2 separate regions of the Homo sapiens genome follow, and region 2 is linked to region 1. A link means that fine-mapping ties the variant in region 1 to the expression of a gene that starts in the linked region. Tissue or cell type: subcutaneous fat. Region 1 holds a variant in brackets; the other region holds the start of a gene. All regions are shown on one strand. Distances are between the middles of the regions.

What was found. PIP is the estimated chance that this variant, and not a neighbour inherited with it, causes the effect.
Region 2: CRYZ starts here. The variant in region 1 is fine-mapped to the expression of CRYZ in subcutaneous fat (GTEx, PIP above 0.99). The same link has a PIP of 0.9 or more in caudate, fibroblasts, lymphoblastoid cells, skeletal muscle and whole blood.

Annotation. Positions count from the first base shown.
Region 1 is chr1:74,710,021-74,712,520 of GRCh38, reverse strand. CRYZ (crystallin zeta) reads left to right here. Exons shown (of 9, transcript NM_001889.4): 6 at 2,274-2,423. Among named protein-coding and RNA genes, the nearest start is that of CRYZ, 22 kb to the left of the region's middle. The variant G/A (reference allele first, on the strand shown) is at 1,457.
Region 2 is chr1:74,731,862-74,734,535 of GRCh38, reverse strand. CRYZ (crystallin zeta) reads left to right here and starts at 1,486. Exons shown (of 9, transcript NM_001889.4): 1 at 1,486-1,580. It overlaps TYW3 (tRNA-yW synthesizing protein 3 homolog), which reads right to left and starts at 1,384. Exons shown (of 6, transcript NM_138467.3): 1 at 1,118-1,384. The coding sequence starts at 1,291. RefSeq lists enhancers at 770-869, 1,250-1,539, 1,094-1,804, 2,400-2,674.

The sequences.
Region 1 (2,500 bases):
GGAAGTCTGTTACAGCTTTAATCTGTTTCTATCATTATTTTTCATCTTAATTCTTTTCTTGCCGAACCCGGTCCTCCCTGTAAATCACTGGTTATGAGTAGCGGGTGATTTTGCATCATTTCTCCTTCCGCTCTGGGACATTTGGCAATGTCTGAAGACATATTTGGTTGTCACAACTTGGGGAAGGGGTTCTGGCATCTAGAGAGTAGATATCCTTCAATACATGGGATAGTCTCCCACAGCAAATAATTATCTGGCCCAAAATGTTGATAGTGCCAAGTTTGGGAAACTCTGCTCTAAATGTATGTGACACTTATTTGTACCATCATTTGTCATCTAATCAGATATATTTCCTAGTATTGTTATTTAAGTAATTGCTCTTTTGTCTATATTCTTAAATTACTTTGATTTCTCTTTTATACTAAGCACATTTATCTGGTATTCTAGTGATTTCTTACAATCCCAGCATTTTGGGAGGCTGGGATTTTGCCAGGTTGCCCAGGCTGGTATCGAATTCCTGACCCCAGGTGATCCACTCACCTCAGCCTCCCAAAGTGCTGGGATTACAGGCATGAGCCACCATGTTCCACCTAATCCTTTGGCTTTAAATACCATCCGTAAGATAATGAATCTCTAATATATATCTCCAGTTGAACCCTTTTGAGTCCATACTCATATTCAACTGATTGCTGAACATCTTCGCCCGTAAGTAGATGAGCACTGTGCAGCTCAGCATGTTACAAGTGATTCTTTTATTTTTATTTTTTAGAGACAGGGTCTTGCTCCGTTGCCCAGACTGGAGTGCAGTGGCATGATCACTGCAATCCCAAACTCCTCAAATTCCTGGGCCCAAGCGATCCTCCTGCCTCAGCCTCCCACATAGCTGGGATTACAGGCATGCGCCACCACACTTGGCAAAGTGAAATCTGGAGATTTTCACAAACTTAGTGTTCTCCAGTCTTCTCACTCTACCCAGTTAATCTGGCCAAAGACATAGGAGACAGCCTGTATTTTTCTCTTTTCCTCATCTCCCGCATTCAATCTGTGAGGAAGTCCCATTAGCTTACCTCTAAACTATATCTGAATTTGTTTATTTTTTCCAGTGCCACCACCTTTGTTCAAGCCAGCTTCATCTCTTATCTAGACTGTTCTAACAGCTACAAACTGATCTTCCTCCTCCCATTTTCCTCACCGCTTTCTTTGTGCCTCACATGTAATTGGAGCAACCTTTTTAAAGCCTGAGTCAACCAGATCATTTCCTGGCTTAAGCTCTCCCGTGGTTCTGCACAGGTTTTAATATACTCGGAAGCCTCTACCCTCACCCCTCAGATTCTGTGTGACTTGGCCTTTCTGGCCTCATCTTCGACCCTTTCGTACACGCCCCTCCCTGAGACACACTGCCCCTCTTTCTGTTCTTTGACCCCAACTGCATTCCCACCTCGCCAGGTTAGCCATG[G/A]CCATTCACTATGCCCACAGCATCCTCCACGTGGCTGACCGGATGTTCTCGTGGCTTGTTCCTCACTTTTTTCAGGTCTCATTTTTTCAGAGTGGCTCTTCCTGATGACCTAAATAGCCCCTATTCCTGTCTCTTTAACCCAACAGCCAGTCTTATTTTTTCTTAGCACTTTTATTTCCTGAATTTATTTTATTCATTCATATGACTATTATCTTCCTCCACCCTTAGAATATAAGTTTATTTCTTACATTAAGTACCATGTCTAGCACATCGTAAACACTCTATAAACATTCACCATATGGATGAATTAGTTAATTTGCCCATATACCTATCTCTTCTACTTAAATGGTGGAGGCCTTACATTTGTTATTTAGAATTTCATATGCACAAAGAAGTCAGAGAGCATGTTCTGATCATCTTTAAACCCTGCAAACATCTTGATGCAGTGGTTAAAAACTCAAGTTCTGCAGTCAGACTGGTCTAACTCCTGTTTCCATCTCCGCATATGACTTGGCCAAATTACTTATAATTTGAAGCTTCAACTTTCTTATCTGTACAATAGGGACAATAATAGTATCTACTTTATAGGGTCATTGTGAGGATAGAATAAAACAATATGTAGAAATTATTTAGTATGGTTCCTGGAATATTTTAAATGCTCAATTAAAGTTAGCTGTTTTTCTTATTTCTTCATTTACACTCTTAAGTTCCTTAAAGTTAGGGTGGGTCCTATAGGAATCTTAAGTTCATTGTATGTATTTAAGTGTTTACAGGAGTGTAGAGAATATATAACTCTTGGGTTATATTTGTTTTTCAGGTTGGATTAGCAGCATGCCAAATTGCTAGAGCTTATGGCTTAAAGATTTTGGGCACTGCTGGTACTGAGGAAGGACAAAAGATTGTTTTGCAAAATGGAGCCCATGAAGTGTTCAATCACAGAGAAGTGAATTACATTGATAAAATTAAGGTAAAATTTTCCACTGTTTTACAAAAGTCAAACTTTGTTCCTTGGAGACTTGCGTGGTTTTTTAATATGTTTTTAAC
Region 2 (2,674 bases), 22 kb before region 1:
CAACCTCAGCATATGCTGTTTTTTCTTTCCTTAAGTCTTTCCTTAAGAACTTTCACCTTTTCACTTCAAAAAAGCACTTTAAAACTTACTGTTGGCAGATCCAAATCGCCAGCATCATTACTCCCGTACTTTGGGGCCATTATTAAGTAAAATAAGAGTTACTTGAACACAAGCACTGTGATACCACCACAGTCGATCTGATAACCCAGAAGGCTACCAAGCAGCTAAAGGGCAGCAAGAATATATAGTGGAATATTCTGGACAAAGGGATGATTCACCTTCCATTCTGGAAGGAGCTGGTTGGCTCAAGATTTTATCACGCTACTCAGAACAGCATGCAATTTAAAACTTACTAATTGTTTATTTCTGGAATTTTCATTTAATATTTTCAGACTGCTGTTGACTGGGGTAACTGAACCTGCAAATAAGGAGGTATGGCTTGTACAGCTGCTTCTTGATTTATGATGGGGTTACATCCCAATAAATCCGTCATAAGTGGAAAATGTAAGTCAAAATGCATTTACTACCCCTGTAAACCCATCATAAAGTTAAAAAAAAAAGTCTAACCATCCTAAATTATATACGATCGTACTTTTCTCTGCGTAAAACTACTAGAGTTGTAATAATGGAGGGGCTCACTAGGAGGCAGTAAACTCCTTAACACTGGTGATGTTCAAGCATGCAGTAACAATGATTTGCCAGAGCTGTTGATGAGCGGATTCCGGCATTCAATACCTTAGCAAGCTACAAAGTCTTTAGATTCCCTTAGTATTCATATAATAAAATCAAATTTTCTAAACTTTGCCACACAAGATAGTTCCCAGGTCAGCAGTTTCAACATCATTTGGGCACTTGTTAGAAATGCACAGTATCAGGCCCTACCCTACACTTAAAGAATCGGGATCTGTATTTTAAAAGATGCTCAGCTGATTAATAGCCACGTTAAACTTTTAGAAGCACTGATCTAATCCCCTAAATTTCACATATAAAGAAACAGAGACCACCCCTCAGAGGAGCAAACACAGACATGCTGGATCCGGTCGTCACTGGATGGGAACAGGGCTCCTGAAGTTTCGCACTAGAAGGCAGGCGATGGACAGGCGCAAAGGGGCCTCACCCGGTCAAGGAGTAGGATGCGGCCAGCGCAGGAGCTGGTGGTGAAAAACTGATCTCGCATGTTCAGAAACTGCACAAGCTCTACCACATCCTCGTCAACACTGCCCTTCCGGCTGAGGTCCGCTTTGCTCAAACATTGCGCCTTCCATTTCCTGAACTCCGCGCTGCGATCCATGGGTGACGGACTCAGGGTCTGCGCTCGGCTCCTTCATGGTAGCCTCGTCTCTCCCTGGGGGCAGCCATATTGAAGCGAGCGGTGGCCGAAAAGGTCCAAACTTCCTCTTCGTTCTTAATTTGGGAAATTCTAGTGCCTTCGCCTAGGGGTGGAGAGAGGCGCACATCCTGGGTGGAGCGAGGCGCACATCCTGGGTGGAGCCTGCAAAAGTTGGAGAAGGTGTGGCAGTCCTCATTTCTGTGGAATCTGAAGAAGCCCACGCAGATTTTAATTCCCACTCTAGATTCTGGTAAGTGGTTTTAAAAACTCTCCTTAGTTGTTTAGACAGCGAATCTCCCCACTGCTCGTCCAAGTGGAACCGAGTTTGATTTTGGCTGCACCCCTTTCCTGCCCTCTGTCCTCCCAGAGAACTAGTGCGTAGAGCTCCAGACCGAAGCCATTCCCCTCCAGGGGCTGCAAGTTCCCATCCATAAATCAGGTAGGAAGTTTTGCCTTCTGGTCCTGGGCTCCTAGCCCTGGTCCTGCGTTTAGGCTCTGAGTTTAGGCTACCACACCATGAGGTGTCCGTTGGCACTACCCCTGCCCAGCCTCCGCCCCCCGCACTCCCTGTCCCCCAGCCCCACGCTGCACCCCCCCCCCCCCCCCCCGCCAGTCACCCGCTTGATTTTTCCCTGCAGCCAGTGCCTGGGTTTGGGGATTCCTGCAGCAGCGCCCAGCGGTCTGTCCAGGGCCCCTTCCCACAGCCCAGCTCTCAGCTGTAGAGGATTTGTCCTAGGTAGGGCCCCTTCCCACAGCCCAGCTGTAGGGGATTTCTTCTCCTAGGTAGGGCCCCTTCGCACAGCCCAGCTGTAGGGATTTGATTTCTTCTCCTAGGTAGGGCCCCTTCCCACAGCCCACCTGTCAGCTGTAGGGGATTTCTCCTAGGTAGGGCTCCTTCCCACAGCCCAGCTGTGGGGGATTTCTTCTCCTAGGTAGTGCCCCTTCGCACAGCCCAGCTGTAGGGGATTTGATTTCTTCTCCTAGGTAGGGCCCCTTCCCACAGCCCACCTGTCAGCTGTAGGGGATTTCTCCTAGGTAGGGCTCCTTCCCACAGCCCAGCTGTAGGGGATTTCTTCTCCTAGGTAGTGCCCCTTCGCACAGCCCAGCTGTAGGGGATTTGATTTCTTCTCCTAGGTAGGGCCCCTTCCCACAGCCCAGCTGTGGGGGATTTTTTGTCTTGGATTCCCACAATTACAGGTTTCCCGGAGCTTCCTCCAGCTTTGCCATCAGGATTGCAGTCTTTGAGAGAAATGTATAGTTTTATTGACCCTGTGACGCCCACCACCTAGAATAATCTTCAAAAGAAAATTACAAAACACCCTGTTAACACATCGTTGGATGTTT